Regions from separate parts of the Homo sapiens genome. Here region 1 is linked to region 2. Evidence: fine-mapped expression QTL. A gene starts in region 2. The other region holds a variant in brackets. All regions are shown on one strand. Distances are from middle to middle.

Evidence for each region. PIP is the estimated chance that this variant, and not a neighbour inherited with it, causes the effect.
Region 1: its variant is the best candidate, but not a certain one, in a credible set for the expression of SDHA in subcutaneous fat (FUSION, PIP 0.81).

What each region holds. Positions count from the first base shown.
Region 1 is chr5:370,357-381,498 of GRCh38, reverse strand. It overlaps AHRR (aryl hydrocarbon receptor repressor), which reads right to left. Exons shown (of 11, transcript NM_001377236.1): 4 at 4,783-4,889. It overlaps PDCD6-AHRR (PDCD6-AHRR readthrough (NMD candidate)), which reads right to left. Exons shown (of 13, transcript NR_165163.2): 6 at 4,783-4,889. Among named protein-coding and RNA genes, the nearest start is that of AHRR, 54 kb to the right of the region's middle. RefSeq lists silencers at 7,136-7,275, 7,326-7,785, 8,066-8,145 and enhancers at 8,158-8,788, 9,576-9,635, 10,516-10,655. The variant C/T (reference allele first, on the strand shown) is at 5,529.
Region 2 is chr5:211,832-222,973 of GRCh38, reverse strand. It overlaps SDHA (succinate dehydrogenase complex flavoprotein subunit A), which reads right to left and starts at 4,654. Exons shown (of 15, transcript NM_004168.4): 1 at 4,556-4,654. The coding sequence starts at 4,618. CCDC127 (coiled-coil domain containing 127) reads left to right here and starts at 4,821. Exons shown (of 3, transcript NM_145265.3): 1 at 4,821-4,881; 2 at 6,115-6,245. The coding sequence starts at 6,125. RefSeq lists silencers at 4,044-4,283, 4,514-4,843 and an enhancer at 3,836-4,644.

The sequences.
Region 1 (11,142 bases), 160 kb before region 2:
AAGCTAATATATTTAATGTTGAAAGACTAAAGGTCTCCCCCTAAAATCAGGAACAAGGCAGATAGCCTCTTTGACCACTCCTAATCTATACTGTACTGGACATCCTAGAAGTGCAATAAGGAAGGAAAATGAGGCACATAGATTGAAAAAGTAAATATAAAACCAACTCTATTCTCAGACAACAATTATAATCTATGTGATGGTTCATTTCAAGTGTCGATTGGATTGGATTGAGAGATGCCTAGACAGCTGGTGGAGAATTGTTTCTGAGAGTGTTTCCAGAGGAGATTGGCATGTGATTCGGTGGACTGAGAGAGGAAGAATCAGCCTTAATGTGGGTCAGTTCCACTGGCTGGAGGCCCAGCTGGGAAAAACAGGCACAAGAAGAGGAGAATTTGCTTTCTGTTCTCTCTTTCTCTCCCTTCCAGGGAATGATGCCTTTTTCTCCTCTTGCCCTTGGACATCAGAATCCAGGTTCCTCAGCTCTTAGACTCCAGGACTTGCACCAGTGGCCTCCTGGGGGCTCTCAGGCCTTTGGCCTTGAGCTAGGAGCTGCATCATCAGCTTCTCTAGTTCTGGGGCTTCCAGACTTGGACTGAGCCACACTACCAGCTTCTCTGGTTCTCCAGCTTGCAGACAGCCTATTGTGAAACTTGTCTGTCTCTGTGATCATGTAAGCCAATTCCTCTAATAAGGCTCCTCACATATAACCTATTGGTTTTGTATCTCTGGAGACTCCTGACTAATAAAATCTATGTTTTAAAAAATCCCATGGAATCTATTTTAAAAAGCTCCCATGACTACTAATGAGTTTAGCAAGGTCATAGGATACAAAGTCAACCTAGAAAAATAAATTGTACTTCTATATACTAGGAATGAACTAAAAATTGAAATTAAAAAAGTCTCATTTACATTAAGAACAAAAATATAAAACTTAAACATGAATCTAACATAAATATGCAGGATATGTATGCTGAAAACTACAAAACACCGATGAACATAATTAAAGAAAACCTAAATAGAGACACATACCATGTTCATGGATTGGGAGAGTCAGTATTGTTCAAATGCCAATGCTCCCCAAATTGATTTACTGATATGTCACAATCTCAATCAAAATCCCAGCAGGGATTTTTGTAGATATCGGTCAATAAGCTAATTCTAAAATTTATATGGAAAAAAAAGAACTAGAATAGCCAGAACAATTCTGAGGAAGAATAAAATTGAAAGATTCACATTATTTGATATCAAGTCTTATTTTAAAGCTATAGTAGGTAAGATAATGTGGTATTGTTAAAAGGTTAAAAATACAGATATATAGAACAGAATACAGAGTCCAGAAACAGATCCACAAAAATACAGCCAATTGATTTTTCACAAAGGTATAAACGCCATTCAGTATAAAAAGATAGTCTTTCTAATACATGGTGCTGAGACATCTGGATAGTCACATGCAAAAACAATAAATCTTGACCCCTACCTCACACATCTCATACCAAAGTTAACAAAAAGTGGATCATAGACCAGAATGTAACATATGAAACTATACAACTTTAGAAGAAAGCATAAAAGAAAAATCTTTGTAACCTTAGGTTAGGTAATGAGATGTGGCAACAAAATCAATCTACAAAAAGAGAAATTGATAAATTAAACTTAATCAAAATGGAATACTTTCACTATCTGTAATATCCTGTCAAAAGAATAAAAAGACAAGCCACAGACTACGAGAAAATATTTATAAATCATACATATGAGAAAGGACATGTTTCCAGAATATATAAAGAGATCTCTAAACTGAATAGTAAACAAGCAAATGAGCTGGTTTTCTTAATGCACAAAAGATCTGAAAGACCATTCACCAAAGATGACACACGGATGCAAATAACCACATGAAAAGATATGCAGCATTGTTAGTCACAGGGAAATCCAAACTAAAACCCTAACAAGATTCCAGTATTAAAATGGCTTTGAAAAAAGTAATACCAAGTGCAAACCCAAAGATGCTGAGCAACTGAAACACTCATTCACTGCTGGGGGATAAGAGTTAAAAACACGCTTACTATTCATGAAACGAAGACCTACGCTCATAGAAACACCTGTATGTGAACGTCTATTGACTGCAGCTCCATTCATAAACACCAAAACCTAAAAACAACCCAAATATCCCTCAACAGTTGAATGACACATGGGGTTGGTCCATACCTCATCAATAACAAGAAACAAACCAGCGGCCCGCAGCACCGTGGATGAGCCCAAATCCTAACCGGCAGCAACAACAAGAAACCAGCTGGTGACCCGCAGCACCGTGAGCAAATCTCAACAGCACTGTGCTGACTGAAGCTGGCCTCCAAAGGCCATGCGTGTGACTCCGTGTGGAAGACATCCAGAGAAAGGCAAGGGACAGGCTGCAGGGATAGAGCACACATCGGCCGTGGCTGGGGGCAGGGGGCTGTGACTGCAAACAGCAGCAGAGGAGAAATGTTTGGGGAGGGGATGGCTCTGAATCTTCATGACGGTGGCAGTCACATCCCACTGAATGCCGAAAAGAATGAACTTTAGTGTATGTAAATTTTTAAATAAGTGTTAGAAAATGTATCCTGCAGTAACCATACACTTGAATTCTAGCTGAACTTAAGCAGTCAGTGAGACAGCATCCTAGCCCGAGACAGGCCACATCCGTGGCTCCAGTGAGTCATGCTAAACCCAACAGCCCTGTAGCCCACCTAAAAGACAGAATGAAAACCTAGAAGCTCTGACTCGTATTGTGCAGGGAGCTCAGGGCCTCCTCTGTGTGCTCACATGTCTTTGGAGCCCTCCTCCTTGTTTCCCTCTCCAGTCTCCCACCTCTCCCCACTCCTCCATCCTCCCACTCTTAGCACCTGCACCAAGATGTGCACCAGGGGAAGCCACGGGCTGTGGCCCATCTGTCTTGGCTTCCCTGGGGAAGGCCGGAGGCTTGGAGGACAAGCCAGTGAACTCAGGACAAAGAAACACCAGGTCCAGACTACACTCTCAGGGGTCATTTCTAGATCATTACTAAAGCCTCTCTGAACGTGTGGAGCATCTTAAATAAATAAATAAACAGAAGCGCTGGGTCCAGCTCAGCCCCAAAGGGCACCTGGTGGCTCCAAGCCTTACTTCCTCACCTTAAATCAACAGACCATGGCCACAGCACTCTGAAGCCTGTGCCGGCTCAAGGCGGTTTATGGATTTAGGGTGCCCTGCCATAAACCTCCCCTTTTTTTCAGTTTATTGTGAAGAGATTGAAGATTAGAAATAAAAGCTGGGATTTGCTGCTGTTGTTGCTTGCTTTGCTTATTTTGCCCTGTTGGAATATTTTTAAGCTTCAAAAAGAGCATATAACCCCTTTCACTGCCCTGGCAATCAGTGAGGAACCCTCACCATACAACCTACCAGATGCAATCTAAGCAAACTTCCAGAAATTTCCGTGGGCCAGAGGACATGAACCAGATGCAGTGGACTGAGACTTCGGGAACTGCTCAACCTCCCCCAGAACAGAGTGGGTGTGACCAGCACTCTGGCCAGGTAGGGGAGTCAGGCCAGGCAGCAGGAGGGCCACAGTGTCAGGAGCAGACGGGCGGACCCTGACCCCCAGCCTCCATGCCTCTTCCAAAGTCTTCTTGGAGAGTCCCCCTGAAGGTAGCTCCAAAATATCCCACGCTGCTGGGAGCAGGGTGGGAAGTCCAGCAGCAGGGAACCAGGCCCAGGCCTCCCTCCCGCAGGCTCCAGGCTTCCCAGGCCCCAGGAGCTGGGACCCATTCACTAGCGGGGACAGAGTAGAGCGAGCTGGGGGTTGTGAACTGACCTGGAGACACACAGGAGGATCTGGGGCAGGGGGTTGAGCAGCCCCTCCCAGGCACTGGGGGTGCACAGCTCCATGGGAGACTAGTGGCTGCTGGCTGTGGGGCAGCCTGCCACCAGGGCCCCAGTACCCTCTCATCTGGAGCGGGTTGGCTGGTGCCCTCCTGCCCCACCCAGGGGTCCTGAGTTCCGGCTGGAGCCCACCCTGTTACCCAGGAAATGTCATGTTGTCCCCGCCTCCTCCCTGCAAGCCCACTCAACCCCATCCTGGGACCACCCAGGGCCCATGTCTCTCCAGCCACTGGTGGAGGCAGCAACCCCCTTCATCTTCAAAATGGCGAATGGATTCACCCCGGAGGCTCCATGCCACCATCTTATCTTGTTTAGGAAAATGGTCCACAGTCTCCTCTCCCAGAGGGGTAACAGGCCCCGCGTTACAGCACAGGACAACTCAGCACTTCAGAGTCGCAGGGATGGGGGAGATGGGGTGAAAAGCCCCCTCACCACAGAGCTTCCTGCCCAGGCCCACAGCTTCCAGGGTGTCACACAGGCCACCCCAAGATTGAAACCACACCAGGGAAGCCCAGTGTAGACTTTGCCAAATCCTTCATTTTGGGGGAAAAAAGGCTTAATTTTGTACAAGGTTCTCTCACCGACAAGCAAAAGCAGACGGTGCAGAATGAGGATGATTTCCTGATGTAGCACACAAGGCCGAGAGCTCTCGGGCTGCCTTCTCTGTCCCAGCCTACGAGGCTCACACCCAAGGCTGACCCCGACCCAGGGACACCCTTCTTCAACAGATTTTGGAGCCTACGCTTCCTGACAGTTATAAACCTCACAACCTAAGGGCCTCCTGGGTGAGGGCCTGAACATGCGTGACACGGAGTATGACTGAGCCTGAACACGCGTGACACGGAGAACCAAGTGTCAAGTGTTCGAGGTACCAAGGGTGGCACTCACCTCCAACAGCAGCCTTCCCTCCAGCACGGCAGACCCTGCAAGAGGACAGCTGTCTCCGGGCGAGGGGGCGCCGGCCGCAGGCTGCCGTGAGCTCTGCTCCTGCACGACTGTCAGAGAAGAAAAGACACATTAGGCACCCCCAACCCTTGGCCTGGCCACTCTTCTTCATTCACATCTTTCCTGTGTTTCCCCGCGTTCACCCCACGGTTCTCACCTGACATCTGGCCTGGGCTGCACTGACCCCTCTGCAGGCCACGCAGCATTCCACAGCCCTGAGAGTCCAAGGTGGGGCAGGAGGAGCTGAGACACAGGCCTCAGATCAGCCAGGAGAGGCAGGGGGACACCAGGACATGGAGGCAGAGCCTGGCCTGAGGACGCCCCCACACCCGCTCTGCTCTGCAGAAACTGCTCTCTGTCCCCTCCTGCCCAACCCCCCAGGGCCCCCACCCAGTCTTGGGACAAAGTCTGGCTTCCTGCCAGATCCCCCTGAAGCCACCCAGGAGGTCCCTACGGCCCCTCCCCTGAGACCCACGGCACTGTTGGGCTGCACCCCTTTGAGGGCTGGGCCAAGGTCCCCTGCGTCCACCTGGGTCTTCTGTGCCCTGCACACCCGCATCGCCTCTCCCTCCTGGAACCCACGCAGCCCCCTCCCTAGTGAGAAGCAGGCCAGGCCCCACGCCCCCAGGGGCCGCACAGAACACCGCAGGGCAGGAAAAGGCAGGTCCAGGACAGTCGCCAGTGCTACC[C/T]CCTTCCCAGTGACTGCGCACAGCCCCCAAGGACACTCCCACTCCTGAGGATGGTGCATTCTCCATTTTTGGGTGCAGAAGGGGACAGATGACACGTTCACCTTCCAGACTGACCAAGGGCTGAGTTCCGGACCCAGCACAGGTGCTCACTGCCCACTCAGTGTCCTCATGGGCACTGGAGACATGGGAGGGACACCCCTCCCCAGCTTCTGAGAGGACTGAGGGGCAAGGGTGTCCCAGCAAGCAGCTGGCCCCAGTGCGTGGACCAAAGCGCACCCCAGCAAGGCCGGGGGGGCATCTGCTGCTCCCGCGTCTCCCGGATCCTCAGCTGAAGTCACAGGTGGTGTCCGCTCAGGCAGATGCTACCTTGCCACCAGTTCTGACCTTGAGATGGCATAAAAACTGTCATCACGCATGGCACCTTAAGGCCAGCACACCGTCCTTCACGGTGGGCAGCCTGTGCCGGGGTCCCGGCGTGGCACAGCCCAGGCGGCCATGCTTCACCGGATCTGCCCACTTCCGCGGGTTAGGGAGACACAGCCCTTTCCAAAGCAGCCCCCCACCACCCTCACTCCCCACTGGGCCGAGCTTAGACTCCTGGCTGCCTCCACCCCACTGCTCAGCAAGAGCCCGACCCAGACAGAAAATCAAGTTTGAGGGGCACCGCCTCATCGAAAAGCGCACGTGTCTATTTGTAGCCCATCACAGTCCCAAAATGATGTGAGGCTGCTGGATATTTTAAGAACTAGAATAACCACTTGAATAAAAGCATAATGTCTCACTCAGGGTGGGCTGGACTCCCAGTCTCCAGCCCCAGGGGCACTGTGTCTGTCACCTGAGAGTGCTCTGAAATGTGTGTGGCCTGAACCTCATTGTGGGTCACTGGCTCCTGCTCCCAGGAATCCTCCTGGACTTCCAGGAAGGCATCCACCTGCTAGTCAAAGTGGTTCACACTTTGCTCTGAGCTCTCCTCACCCCACAGTCCCTGGGCCGGCAGCCCCCAGACCCACAGGACCAGCGTCTGTGGTGTCCCCAGGCCGTGGTGAGCACAGGTGGGGTCCGGACGCTGGGTTAACCTGCTCCCCATCAGGCCAGGACCCCGGAACCGGCTGCTGGACTGGGCTAGCACCCCACCCTCCACCAGAAAGGCCATACTGGGAGCCATTGATTCAGAATCTGAGGTACCAGCTGCAGGGATGCTGACGAGCTAAGGTGTCCGTGGGGGGCGAGGGCCCGAGTGAGGAGGTGAGGCAGCCAGAAGCCCGGAGACGGTGGCACCGGGTGGCCTTGGGACTCGGCCTCTCTGTTCCCCTCCCTCCCTGGTCTCTGAGCCCTCATTTCTCCCTCAACTCCCATAGCTGGTAAAAACTGGATGTTTGTTCACTGCACTAAATGTAACAAAAACTGCCCCATTTCTTCTGCCACAAAGCAGGACTATTCCGAGGAAGCATGAACAGTCCACCGAGGTGGGGGCATCCCTTGGGCAAGGGCGGCCTCTTCCCACCTGGAAACCCCAGCATCCTAGCCTCCTGCCCTCCAGGCTCAGCCAGAGACGCCACAGTTCACACAATACGCGTGTTCAGAAAGCTGAAGGTTTTTAACAGTGAAAATCAAGATCTTTCTCCCAAGTGCAGACCCAGGAGAAGCCAGGGCAAGAGGCGCCCCGGGTGTCCCAGCAGCTGACCCCGAGCCCGAGGAGAGACCCGGGCAGGAGCGGCCCCACACAGACGCTGCTGGGGTCGCCCCGTGAGACCCCCGTGCTGGCCCTGGGCGCTCCCCGCCGAGGTCCGCGGGCTGGGGCAGCGCGGGTGGGGGCACACGCCTGGGTCACCCGCACACAGACCGACCACCCAGGCGGCCGGTGCAGCCAAGCCCCATTGCAGGGGTCGCTCCCGCAGCGGAGCCGACCCCGTCCCACCCGCAATGCGCCCCGCGGACCCGGCAGCCCCGGCCTTTTCCCCGAGAAGCGCGTAGGTGCGGCGGCAGGGGCGCGCCCCTCCCGGCATCGCGTGCCCCCCGCGGGCGCCCGCCCACTTCCCCCCTACTTCCCCCGCAGCCGCCGGCGCCGTCACGCGATGGGGCCAGCCAGGCCTCGCGTGCGAGCAGCGCTCCCGCCCCCGCCCGCCCGGGCAGGGCGCCAGGAGCCCCAGGAGCGCGGGGAGCGCCAGGCGCGTGGCGGGGAATGGGGCTCGGGGTCCGCGCGGGCGCTCCGGGTGCACACGGGGCGGGCGGACCCGGCCACGGCCTCCCCAGGTCCCCCCGCCCTCCCTGAGCCTGGGGGTCCCACCTGAGGGTCCGCCCCGGGAGGGAGCCCCCATCCCCCACCTCTCCAGCCCCAGTCTCCTCCTCTGTGATGTGGAGAGAGACCCCCCCTCCGCCCAGCCACCGCAGTTGCCCATGGTGAGTGGATGGGGAGGAAGGGAGCTGGGAGCGCGGTGTCCTTCCTGGGCATTGGTGAGAAAGGTGGGCCATCACCGTGGCCCTTACAAGGCACAGCTGGGCCAGCAGGAGGGGGCCACAGGCCCAGGGCGGGAGGAGCTCTGTGCCTCCAAGACCGCAGAGGCCAACCTGTCCCCTGCCTCCCAGCCACCGCCCGGCCTGCTGGTCCCGCAGGGTCTGCAGAGAGGGGCCCTGCCAGGACCACTCCCAGGGCCCACCCCTCGGGCAATGAGAGGCTGGAAGGCTGCGTGTCAGATGAGACCCAGCCGGGTGCAGGGCAGGGCCAGGGCCGCGGGGCAGGGCTGCCCTCTCAGAGGTGAACAGTCCCCACGGCTGGGCCTGAACCCGGATCTGTAGCCTGGGCAACCCCTGTGTCCTGCCAGCACTCTGCCAACCGCGCAGAACCTCAGCCACCTTGGAGAGTCTCAGGGCCATTACCAGCCGTCCGCCCACGGCTGCAGAGTTCACTGCAACCAAGAAGGGGCTCATTTGGAACAGCGAGAATGTGAAGTCAGCACCAAGGCCTCGGGCGACCCTGTGCCCACAGCAAGGGCTGGAGCAGAGTGGCTCCCTTGGGGGCTCAGGCTTCCCATGGGGTCCTGCTAAGGGCCCTCTGTTTCTTCACACAGAGGAGACTCAGAGCAAGGTGTCACCGGGAACCCAAGGCCACCCCATCTGGCCCCCACCACGAGCACCTGGGCCTGTGACTCGGTCTGACCCACAGTCCCTGGTGGAGGAGGAGCCAGAAGGCAGGTCCAGCTGTGCGTCTGGGTGATGCCGTGATGCCCAGAAACGAAGCCACATTGCTCCCAGTCCCCTGAAGCCAATTCCCTGGTAGGGGCGGGGGAGGCGGTGCAGACGGAGGGTGGGAGGTCAGCCCTGCCATTGGAGATCACGCACCCCTGCCACTGGAGATCACGCACCCCAGCCCTGTGCAGCGACTGCGGCTGAAGTTTCCTGCTCTGTGCAGGGCTGAGTAAGGTCCATTTCAGGTCTTCAGTGCTGGACAGGGAGCTGGGCCCAGGGGGAGCTGAAAAGAAGGCGAGATGAAGAAACAGAAGAAGCAGAACAGGCAAAGCGAGCAGAAGAGGACGTCCCTTTGTCCTTCACCCAAACCGCAGCCTGGACCTGGTTCTCAGGCCTCCTGTGACCCATCCCAGGGTGCACAGGGCCCAGGCTGGATTTGGGGCAGGTGACAGTCAGGATCCCAGCACCTTGGCTGGGAAGGAGGACATGCCTCCATGAGGCCCCAGCCCACAGCTCCACAGTCCCCTCTGTGCAGTCAGGGGAGCTGGGCCCAGAAGCCAAGGGATGGATCAGCAGGGGTGGCCCCGCCAGCCCACCCCAGCCCTGGGGGAGGAGGGAAGGCACTGAGGGGCTGTGTGCTGAGCAGCACCACTGCTTCCTATCCAGGAAGCCTGGAGGAGGAGCTCAACCAGCAGAAACCCTGCTGCTTCCTTCCTGTGAGGGGAGAAGGTGGTAAGGAATGTGGGTGCTTCATGAAGGTCCCTATTGGCAGGACTGCCTGCCTCTCTGCAGAGCCCTCGGCGGGGCCTGAGTGGTGCAAGCAGCCAGATGAGAGGAAGGCCCAGGATCCCTTTCTTCTCCATCGTTTTCACTCAGCCCTTAACAGGCACATCGACCCTAAGCATCCTCGTTGGAAGGGACAGAACTCCACAGACAGGGGCGTAAGGGAGAGAGGAGCAGGCGGCCCCCAAGCTGACTCGGTTTAGGACTCCCTCTAGGGAATCATCCTAAGTAAAGCTGTCTGGCAGTCTGCAGCTCCTGGGAGCATTTCACCATAGAGGGCTTCAACAGCGACCACGGGAGTCGGTTCCACAGGCCTGGAAGGACAGTCAGAGCCACCTTGTGAGTCCAGGACTGGTCAGCCCAGGACAGGTGGGCCCAGGACAGGTGGGTCTAGGACAGGTGGGCCCAGATGCTCAGTCCTACTATGGGACACACAGGGGCTTACCCGTGCATGAGGCAGCCTGCCAGCCCCTGCTGCACCTGCCCAGGGAATGGGACGCAGGATTCCTGTCACCTGCAAGCTCATCACTTCAGAGCCCCAGAGACTCACTCAGAAAGCCTAGAGCAGGGCTGGGCTGAAATCCTGACTCAGATGGGAAGCTACTGTTGGCAGTCACAGCCGGCCCTCGAACTAATGAGGACACAGGCCTAGTGTGCTGACCGATGTCACACATCAACCACCTGCAGCACTGGGTGCTGCGATTAAACATCGTGCCTGCTGTGTTGGGAGGTGTTTCCAGATGGCGGTCCCATTTGAATCCGTGGGCTCGGTGAAGCCAGTGGTCTTCCCCAGTGTGGCTGGGCAGTCCATGGGGGGCTGGAGAGAACTAGACAGGAGGAGTCACCCCTTTTTCCTGACTCATGGCTTGAGCCAGATCAGCTCATCTCCCATTCTCCGGCCACAGGCGGGAATTTACCCCAGCGCCCCTGGCCCTCAGGCCTCTGGGCTTGGACTGAACTACACCTCGGCTCTCCTGGGTCTCCAGCTTGCAGCTGTCTGAGACACCTGCTCATAATAAGCCTCCCCATATCTGTCTCCGGTCGGTTCTGTTTTTCTGCAGAGCCCTAACTGACATGCCCTGTAAAGCCCGGCCCGAGGTCGGCCGAGAGCTCCACACCAGGCCCAGCCTCTGTGCTCTGGGTGCCTCCAAGGCAGGCCTCCTCTGGATCACTTCCTCCTCCAGCCACCCAGGGAGGTCGGACAAGCATGATGGGAACGTGCCCCCCTCCCCCCACCAACACCTGCACCTTCCCATGGGCTGCCCCCCTCCACCCCACACTGTCACCTGTGCCTTCCCGAGACCTGTCCCCAACCCCATCACCTGTGCCTTCCCATGGACTGTCCCCCCATCACCCACACCTTCCCATGGGCTGTCCACCCCACCCCTGTCACCTGCATCTTCCTGGGGGCTGTCCCCTATGGACCACCACCTGCCTGGGGCTGCACCCACTGTGAGACTCTCAGGGTCCTGGGGGTGGCGGATGACCTTGGTGAAAATTTCCCTTGAACCTGATTTCACTCACCCCTGCTTCCAGCTCAAGCTCCCTCCTGAGGGACCCTTACGACACCTCTCCCGTCCAGGAGTTGGATGGGATGCTCTGAGAAGCCTGGGACGCCCATCCAACCCTTCCCCGACGCCTGCTC
Region 2 (11,142 bases):
GTAAAAGCTGACAGCCTAGAGGGACGAGGTGTCATCCCTTCATCACACAGGAGGATGTCGGATGCACACTCTCCCCTGCCTGGCTGCTGCTGGCTTTTTCCTGGCCAACATCTACAACTTGACACATCTTGCTGCTTAAATTTTCCATCTTAGAAAACTTTACCCAAGAAAACTGGTTTTGGTGTTTAGTTTTTAGTGGCTCTGTGTGAGAGAGGTGACACTGTCCATATGCTAAGGTTGGCCAGCCATTTAGGGGATACGTTTTCCATTCTGCTGGCTACATTTGAGAAGACCACTGAATAGTCTCAGAAATATCATCAAGAATAGTTTTAGGGGCTGGGCACGGTGGCTCATGCCTGTAATCCCAGCATTTGGGGAGGCCAAGGTGGGTGGATCACCTGAAGTCAGGAGTTCAAGACCAGTCTGGCCAACATGGCAAAACCCCATCTCTACTAACAATTAGCTGGGCGTCGTGGCGGGCACCTGTAATCCCAGCTACTTGGGAGGCTGAGGCAGGAGAATCGCTTGAACCCAGAAGGCAGAGGCTGCAGTGAGCCTAGACTGTGCCACTGCACTCCGGCCTCGGCAACAGAGAGAGACAACGTCTCCAAAAAAAAAAAAAAGAAAAGAAAAAAAAGCTTTAGGAAATAAATGCAATCAGAAGAGGGGATGTGAGGAATGTCTTCAAGTATTTAGAAATACTTGCAATTCAGAAATTACTTATTATGTGGGATAAAAAATTATTCTTCATTTCTCCAATTTCTAGTCTCTGTTTTTATTGGTATAAGCTAATTCAGCTTTTTTCTTTTTTCAGAAAATGAATGAGAAAGAACAAATATTCTTCTACCTTAGTAAAATTTTTGCATGGTAAAATCATATTTTAAGAAAGAAGTCTTTGAAATAATTTTAATACAAATGTTCTTGAAAATGTTGTAAAGTGCCCTATTAACATAGTAATAGCACCAGTAAGAACAGTATATTATACCAAATGTAAGTAGAAACAGTGAGATCACTCAATGTTTATTCGTTCTTTCTAGGATGTTGATGTGGAAGACCCACTGCCCACCCCCCACCACACACACACAGAGCTGGCTTAAAAGGGGCAGCTACTATAACACAATCTTGAACAAATTATCACGCCATCCCCCTGGCGAAAAGGACACTAACCCTCTCAATCTAAATCTAATCTGGGGCAGATTTTTGAATTTGGAAAGCCCAACTTTAAGCCAATTTCAGTCTTTAGATAAAACTCAAAACTAGTTTTGACACAAAACTAGTCTTTTGTGCCAATTGTTAATTTTTTTAGGAGAAACTATCAAACATTTCCTCAAGAAAAAAAATGGGGAACATATAACTAAAAGGAATACTTAGACCTTGCTTAACAATACAGAATTTCAGATGACTGAATTAGGAGGTGGAGGGGAAAAGTAAGAAGTGCAGAGACATTCATATCCGAAATCTAGCAAAGTAAGGGGTCCTCATCTAATACAACGCACCTATAAATCACGAGCAAGAAACTAATCTGCATGTACAACCTACACAATCACAAAAGCAGCCAACGAAGAACCTAAAAACGCACGACTGTATCAGGAAGAAGCGGAAGCAGGGTAGTTTAAGTGAACTAAATCCCCTCTCTAGGCAAGAAGTCTAAAACTGATAAAAATGCACCTGCATATCCGCTAAAGAAACAGAGGTATTACAAATGCCAGGAGTCAGTATCAGAAACAGGAATTGCTTTCATGGAAAATGAACTGGGTGAGGGAGGGTATACTCATTGATTCTTTTACAACTGCGTGTAATTATTCTCACTAGAATTTTAGTGTTTATTATTTTAAAAACAGGGATACTTAAAATACAGTTCGGCCGGGCGTGGTGGCTCACACCTGTAATCCCAGCCCTTTGGGAGACCGAGGCGGGCGGATCACGAGGTCAGGAGATGGAGACCATTCTGGCTAACATGGTGAAACCCCGTCTCTACTAAAAACACAAAAAAATTAGCCGGGCATGATGGCAGGTGCCTGTAGTCCCAGCTACTCAGGAGGCTGAGGCAGGAGAATGGCGTGAACTCGGGAGGCAGAGCTTGCAGTGAGCCGAGATTGCGCCACTGCACTCCAGCCTGGGTGACAGAGTGAGACTCTGTCTCAAAAAAAAAAAAAAATTCAGTTCACACATGGTTACTGTGCATAGGCTGTGAGCCCTGGTTCTCAAGAGCATCACCAAAGGTTTCAAACATTACCCACAGAATCCTCACTAACCCCACGGAAAGACGGAGCTCAGAGAGGATTCAAGTCGGCCGGCCTGGCTCTGGATCCTGGACTTGCCCCCCTATCTAAAGACCCTTGGGAAAAATCTCTGAGACTCCCAACTAATATTAATATCCAGGTTTCATATCAAAAAACAAGTCACAATTTTTCAAATAAATCAGGAAAAACATCATGAGGAATGCAGAATGGAATGCCATTGTTGTTACAATTATCCCAAGAAGCAAAGCAAAGGTTTACTACTATAATGGCCTAAATAATGTATTTCTAGAACACCATTAAACATATTCAGAACAATCCATTCAAAGAAAAGAAATCAATTTGTCCTAGAACAATATATTGGATGTTCATGTTAAGGGATTTGAAAAACTTCACCTGAAGTAAGCAGTTAACCAGTAACTATTGAAGTTTCTTGGTTTTCTTTTTCCTCTGATTAAACTGCTTTCGAACAGTTTGCAAGCTGTGTCAGTGCACTGGGCCATAAAAAGAAACCAAAAGCAAAATAAGTCTGATAAGTTCGTCACTTGAAAGCAGTTGTAAATACAGAATGATCAAAACACCACAGAACTGGCCAAAATGAGGTTAAAAAATTCTCTCTGGACTTTACTGAAATTATCCTCAGCATCTATTTTCCAAACACATTTCTCAGTTGGCTATCACGAATTTCTTTCTTTTTTCTGCTAATTTTTTGATTATGCTGTTCCTTCGTAAACTCCAATTCTTCAGGAAAAAAAGCCTATCTGAAATGCCGATAAATATGCTGCTTGCAGGCAGAATTTCTGTAGGAAAAGCTAACTTCATCAAGATAAAAAGACTTTTACAAAACCCAAGACTAAATTTTGGTTCAATTTTGCTATCTTGCCATCCCGTCTGAGGTGCCTCCGCCGCTGGCAGGGTCTTAGTCTGCAGAAGGAACACCGGGCACCATCTGGGTTGAGGACAAAGGCACTAGCTCTAGCTTTTCTCCAATCACAAGCTACCATTTCCCCTAAAAAGCCCCACTGACCATGGGCTTTCCTTCCTGCTTGTGGACGCCCTCCTAGCAGCTCTTAAAAGCCCAAGATGCGGCAGGGGTCTCTGCTCAGTCAGTACCAACCACAGCAACACACTAGAACGGTTTACACGCTTTCTGATGTTGGCAGGATGGCTGTATGACTAATCCTCACATTTAACTCAACGAGATTTTTAATAAGTATTTCAAAAAGGAGAAAATTGCACAATTACAGGCATAATTCAAATCAATATTGCTGAATGCCTTGGTTCCTATTGAGATTTTTATTCTGCAATTTAAAATTACTTTGTAATTAAGGAGGTGGGTGGGTAAGTTCATTTAAAAGAACCAAACAACTAAACCTATCCAATTTAGCTTGATTAAATAAAACCCTAGAAGGCCGATTCTTAAGATGCAATCGTAGAGGGCACATTCAGACACTCAGAGAGCAAGGGCTCAGGGAAGTATAACCCTGACCACCATCCTGGACTAAGCCGAGCCCGGCCCTAGAGGCACTCAGCGCACAGGCAAGCACAGGTCCCGGCGTCCTCGCCCGGTCAGTGCGCTGAGCTCTCCGCCTGAGTTTTAAAAACTGGCACAGCTGCTTTTAAACACTGGCACATTTTTGGTGGCATAAGGACCACCAAACACGACCCAAAGTAGAAGCCCTTAACTTACAAGGTCTCGAAGTGGACATGGACAGATTTGCGCTTTCTGGAAAGGCGAACTGCAAGCCTAAGCTCGGGCGCGCCACGCTTCCCACCGGACGCCCACCGGGCCGAGCCCGGCCACTCCTCGCACCCACCCGGGCGGTCTCACCCGCCCCGCCGGCCCCACCCACGGGCTGCGGGCTGCTCCTCAGGACAACCCGCACAGAGGGCGGCAGAGGCCCAGCCCAGCCAGGGCGGCCACCGGCCGCTATCCGCCCGGGTGACCTTGGGCAGACACGACTCCTCCCCGAGTCCACCTGCCAGGCACTGAGGCGAGGGGCTACCTCAGCCCGCGGGGTCCCAGGACCCCAGGCCCGGACCAAGGCGGCGGAGGGGACGCCCAGCAAGCCCGCGGGGTTGTGACCTTCACCCGGACGCGGACTATCTACTAAGGACCGAGCTCCCCGGGTCCCCGAGTCCGCCCCGCGGCTTCCCCTCGCACCGGCCCAGGGCTCTCTCAGCCCCTTCCCGATCCCGGGACAGAGGGCGCAGGGACCCGGCGCCCGCTCCGCTCGGACCCGCTGGGGACCGTCCCGCTCCTACCGCCGCCTCGGCCCCCGCCTGCCCCGCCCCGGTCCGCGGCACGGACTCACCGCCTTGGCCAGCGCCAGGCGCCGAGCGCTCAGCAGCCGCGACAGGCCCCGGACCCCCGACATGTCTGCTGTTGCCGCCGCGCAGTCCCGCCAGTCCCTGCGCAGACTGCGCCTGCGCACCACACCGGGGTCGAGCTGGCGGGGGAGGGGGGATACCGCGCCTGCGCACCACGCCGGAGTCGAGCGGGGCTGCAGTGGGGGACATCGCGCCTGCGCACCATGCCACGCCCGGAGCGGGTACTGAGTGGGGGCGCCGCGCCTGCGCAAAGCGGACCCGCGGACGGTGGCGTTAAGGGAACGCTGAGGTCCCGCGCTCCCCGACCGAGGTAGAGCGGGCCCTGTTCCGGGGAGGTGGTGGGCACCAACATTTTTAAAGCCCCGTGGGTGGTTCTCCGGGATCGCCCAGACCGAAGGGCCTGAACGCCCAGACCGCAGGGAATGGGGTCGGAGGGGGGCGCTCGTCCGCGGAGGTGGGCGGGAGCGGCCCGGGGCCTCCGACCTCTTGTTTATTATACATCCCTTGATTAACTAAACTATTTTGTAATTGTGTGTGTTTGTGGAGGTCACATGTAAACAAACTTAAAGTGACTCTACTTTGTGAAAATGTGAAACTTCGTGTAGGTACTCAGTAAATCAGTAAATTCTTACTAACGTTAGCCCCCAGCCTAGCTATGGAGGGTGCATGCTGAGCCCGAAGCAGAGAACTCTGTAATCTCTGCATTCATCACCACCACGAGGAGGCCTCAGAAGCTTCTAGCACTGTTTGCACCTTCCCCACATCACCCCTCCCTGCCTTCCTCACAGTCTTCCTTCTGATCAGAAGACCCTTTCCTTCTTTCTCTGCCTGTCAAAATGCTGCTCACTCTTCAAACCCTAGCTCATATGAAAGTGTCCGGTGTGAGCCCACTTTTATCGAGTTGATTCTGTATCTTTGATACAACTGTATGAGGGTTCTCCAGAGACACAACAAATAGAAGGGAGACGTGAGGAATTGGTTTAAAGGTTCAATTGCTAATCTCATCCAAAAACACCCTTACAGACACGCCCAGAAATAATGCTTAACCATGTATCTGAGCACCTCATGATGCCGTCAAGTTGACAAACAAAATTAACCATCGCAGCAGCCATACATTTAAACATATTTGTACCAGAGAACTTACCTGATTCTACCTGCACTTCAGATGCTTAAGACATGTCTGTTTTCTCCACTTTCCCCAACCAGATTGTGAGTCGCTTTCATCTTAAGTTCTTGTTTTTTTTTTCCTTTTTCTTTTTCTTTTTTTTTGGGGGGGACGGAGTCTCGTTCTGTCACCAGGCTGGAGTGCAGTGGCGCGACCTCGACTCACTGCAACCTCCACCTCCCAGGTTCAAGCGATTCTCCTGCCTCAGCCTCCCGAGTAGCTGGGACTACAGGTGCCCGCCACCATGCCCGGCTCTGGTCTAGTTTTTTTCTTCTTTGAATCCCGTAGGGCCTCAGTGCTGTGCAGCAAGCACATAGTTAAAACTGAAGAAAAATTTCTTGAATAAAAGTAGTTAACGTTTTTATTCTTTACTTCAAGGTATATCTCCATGAATAACCTAAATGATCCCCCAAATTGGAATATCCGGCCTAATTCCAGGGCGGATGGTGGTGATGGAAGCAGGTGGAATTATGCCCTGTTGGTTCCAATGCTGGGATTGGCTGCTTTTCGTAAGTCATGGTTTTCTTAAAATTCGTGTTTTCCAGGCTGAGAGTGTGGAGCCCCGGTGAGGGAGGCAGCATGGTGTGGGAGCCTGAAGGCCGTGACTTTGGGACCTGCCAGGGACAGCCGAGTTTTATCCCCTGCAGTGAACCGTGGGCAAATCACTTAAGCTCTGAGCCTCAGTCTTCCTGTTCACAGGAGATGGATAATCATACTTAACCTCAGCACACTGCAAGGATTAAGTCAGCCAAGGCGTTTAGAAGCATTTTGTGTGGGGTGGGTTTTAATAACTTAGTTCCCTCTGAAGGCTTTGCTGCTCTCAAGTCGGGGAGGAGGTTCCTTATTTCAGGTGCCCTCATAAGGACTGCTGGGGAACAAAACGGGTGTAAAGGAAACCAGTGGGCTGGGCGTGGTGGCTCATACCTGTAACCCCAGCACTCTGCGAGGCCCAGGTGGGCAGATCGAGTGACCAGCCTGAGCAACACAGCAAAACCCCGTCTCTACAAAAAAATACAAAAATTAGCAAGTCGTGACGGTGCACACCTGTAGTCCCAGCTACTCAGGAGGCTGAGGTGGGAAGATCAGTGGAGCCTGGGAGGTCGAGGCTGCAGTGAGTGGAGATGGCACCACTTGCCCTCCAGCCCGAGCAACAGGGTTAAAAAAAAAAAAAAAGAAAACCAGTTTTGGAAAACCAGTGATGTTTAATGTTTAGGAAATCAGTCTTTGGGAGACTTCATCCATGAAATCTCTGCTTGGCCTGGCCAGAAAAATTCTCTCTAGTTTAGATTGACTTGGCACCACTTTGGGGACCTGCCGGTCATATGCAGACTTACATCCCCACCACACAATCAATTCACTGATGCAGAGGAGTGAGTTTTGTGTTTCTTCACATTCCATGGTTCTGGGCTGGCACTTAGGAACATGAGAAACTGAATAATTGAATGGAAGAAAGGCAAAACTGCCCTCTAGTTGTAGCGATACATTTTGTGTAGTGGCTTTTTATCTGCTTCCATGTCTCAGGTCAGAAGTTTTGCTGTAGAGGAAGAGGAGGCTGGTAAGAGCAGGTGGTTTTTATGATTCAGTGATCTGCGCAGTGCTTGCTTCTTGGTGAAAGACAGGGCAGGTCCACATCCAATCCTAAGGGGCTGCCATGTAAAAAGCTCATCCGCCTGCAGGCTTGGGAAAAAAAACCCTTAACACTTGGAGAGGCTACTGTTGCCTGTGGCTAGGGTGAGTGGATTGGAAGGCTTAAAATTACTCTGACTAATGTAATAATTAATTGGCTTTGAGGCTGGGAGAGGCCCTGAAGTGACTCATTTTCCATTTGTTTTTCAGACTCATCTCCAGCTTTTATAGCCTTTCATGATAACTTTCACTTTTGAAATTCTTACCTTCCCTTCTTGGACTTTTGAAATGATGCTTTCTGTCCCTGAAAAGGGTTGAAGAATATTTTTTTCTTCCTGGTTTTTTGCTGAGGTAGTGTGGTCAGAGAGAACTGTTAAGTTGGTGTTCTTGTAAGGATTCTCCAAAGGTGTGTTACGATGTGTTTGAGGTTCTGTTGCACATAGGAGCGTTAACCAGCCCCTAGTGTAGTCTAGAAGAAGAGGCAGACATATGAATACTTGATAAGCGCTATTGGTTGATTTATTGATGAGAGGCTAGTTTTGTCCTGATCACTCGCTTCATTTACTAGAATTTTTTTTTTTTTTCGAGACGGAGTCTTGCCCTGTCGCCAGGCTGGAGTGCAGTGGCGCGATCTCGGCTTGCTGCAACCTCTGACTCCCTGGTTCTAGTGATTCTCCTGCCTCAGCCTCCCGAGTAGCTGGGATTACAGGCGCCCCTCACCACGTCCAGCTAATTTTTGTATTTTTAGTAGAGACGGGGTTTCACCACATTGGCCAGGATGGTCTCGATCTCCTGACCTCATGATCTGCCCGCCTCGGCCTCCCAAAGTGCTGGGGTTACAGGTGTGAGCCACCGTGCCCAGCCCATTTACTAGATTTTTACTTAACATAACATAGAAATGTGTGTAATTGTGCTTGCCCGAAAGAGCAGTCCCTGGAGAAATTCTTACCCTGAGTAGCTCCCAGGGGAGAATATTCAGTATTTCAGCACTCCAGAGGGCTTCTCTCTCTTCACACCTCCTCTGTCATTCTGCTTCCCCCCTTTTCTCTCAGTCTTCTTGATTGCCCTTTCCCCATCTCTCTCTCCGTGCTTTTCCCATCTCTCCGTGCTTTCTCCCCTCTAGTGTTCCTGTACCTCCTGTTTCCTCCCCTGACCCAGAAAACATAGTTTTAGAGCTGAAAGGGACTGGTTGAGTTCACTGGGCCCAACTCAGTTTCTTTTAATTAAATATTTTATTTTGGGGTCATGTAAATCACATGCAGTTGTCATCAGTAATGCAGAGAGCCCGTGTACCCTCTACCCAGCTTTCCCCAGTGGAAGCATCTGCAAAACGATAGTGCAGTGTCACAGCCAAGACATCTGCCAGGATGCGGTCAAGATACCCCAATCCCTGGGGCCTCACGTGCTGCCCTGTGTACCGCCCCTCCCTCCATAGCCCCCGGCAGCTACTGATCTGTTCTTCATCTCCAGAACTTTGTCATTTCAAGAATGTTATGTAAATGGAATCAAACAGTATATAACCTTTCGGGTTGACTTTTTTCATTCAGCATAACCCCCTGAGGTCCATGCAGATTGTTGCTGTATCAGTAGTTCATAGATAGTTTCATTGCTGAGTCGTGTTTTATGACATGGACGTACCACAGTGTGTTTAACCACTGAAAGACATCTGGGTCCTTTCCAGTTTTCAGCTGTTATGAATAAAGCTCTTATAAACATTCTTGTGTAGGTTTTTGTGTCGATGTAAGTTTTCATTTCTCTCGGATAAAGGGCCAGAAGTGAAATTACTGGGTTTTATGGAGGTTGCACGTTTAGTTTTTTAAGAAGGGCTGAAATGTTTCCCGAGTTGCTGCACCGTTTTAGGTTCTCACCAGCAATGCAGAGCTGATCGGTTTCTCCACCTGGTCAGTATTTGGTGTTTCACTGCTGTCCCGTCTGCCCCATCCTGATGGGTGTGTGGTGCTGTCTCATCGTGGCTGCAGCGTGCAATGTCGAGCATCAGCGTGCTCACACTGCTGTCCCGTCTGCCCCATCCTGATGGGTGTGTGGTGCTGTCTCGTCGTGGCTGCAGTGTGCGATGTCGAGCATCAGCGTGCTCACACTGCTGTCCCGTCTGCCCCATCCTGATGGGTGTGTGGTGCTGTCTCGTCGTGGCTGCAGTGTGCGATGTCAAGCATCAGTGTGCTCACACTGCTGTCCAGTCTGCCCCATCATGATGGGTGTGTGGTGCTGTCTCGTCATGGCTGCAGTGTGCGATGTCGAGCATCAGCGTGCTCACACTGCTGTCCCGTCTGCCCCATCGTGATGGGTGTGTGGTGCTGTCTCGTCGTGGCTGCAGTGTGCGATGTCGAGCATCAGTGTGCTCACACTGCTGTCCCGTCTGCCCCATCCTGATGGGTGTGTGGTGCTGTCTCGTCGTGGCTGCAGTATTCGATGTCGAGCATCAGTGTGCTCACACTGCTGTCCCGTCTGCCCCATCGTGATGGGTGTGTGGTGCTGTCTCATCGTGGCTGCAGTGTGCGATGTCGAGCATCAGCGTGCTCACACTGCTGTCCCGTCTGCCCCATCCTGATGGGTGTGTGGTGCTGTCTCATCGTGGCTGCAGTGTGCGATGTCAAGCATCAGCGTGCTCACACTGCTGTCCCGTCTGCCCCATCCTGATGGGTGTGTGGTGCTGTCTCGTCGTGGCTGCAGTGTGCAATGTCGAGCATCTCAGCGTGCTCACATTGCTGTCCCGTCTGCCCCATCCTGATGGGTGTGTGGTGCTGTCTCATCGTGGCTGCAGTGTGCAATGTCGAGCATCTCAGCATGCTCACATTGCTGTCCCGTCTGCCCCATCCTGATGGGTGTGTGGTGCTGTCTCATCGTGGCTGCAGTGTGCGATGTCGAGCATCAGCGTGCTCACACTGCTGTCCCGTCTGCCCCATCCTGATGGGTGTGTGGTGCTGTCTCATCGTGGCTGCAGTGTGCGATGTCAAGCATCAGCGTGCTCACACTGCTGTCCCGTCTGCCCCATCCTGATGGGTGTGTGGTGCTGTCTCGTCGTGGCTGCAGTGTGCAATGTCGAGCATCTCAGCGTGCTCACATTGCTGTCCCGTCTGCCCCATCCTGATGGGTGTGTGGTGCTGTCTCATCGTGGCTGCAGTGTGCAATGTCGAGCATCTCAGCGTGCTCACATTGCTGTCCAGTCTGCCCCATCATGATGGGTGTGTGGTGCTGTCTCGTCATGGCTGCAGTGTGCGATGTCGAGCATCAGCGTGCTCACATTGCTGTCCCGTCTGCCCCATCGTGATGGGTGTGTGGTGCTGTCTCATCGTGGCTGCAGTATTCGATGTCGAGCATCAGCGTGCTCACACTGCTGTCCCGTCTGCCCCATCGTGATGGGTGTGTGGTGCTGTCTCATCGTGGCTGCAGTGTGTGATGTCGAGCATCAGCGTGCTCACACTGCTGTCCCGTCTGCCCCATCCTGATGGGTGTGTGGTGCTGTCTCATCGTGGCTGCAGTGTGCGATGTCGAGCATCAGCGTGCTCACATTGCTGTCCCGTCTGCCCCATCCTGATGGGTGTGTGGTGCTGTCTCGTCGTGGCTGCAGTGTGCGATGTCGAGCATCAGTGTGCTCACACTGCTGTCCCGTCTGCCCCATCCTGATGGGTGTGTGGTGCTGTCTCGTCGTGGCTGCAGTGTGCGATGTCGAGCATCAGTGTGCTCACACTGCTGTCCCGTCTGCCCCATCCTGATGGGTGTGTGGTGCTGTCTCGTCGTGGCTGCAGTGTGCGATGTCGA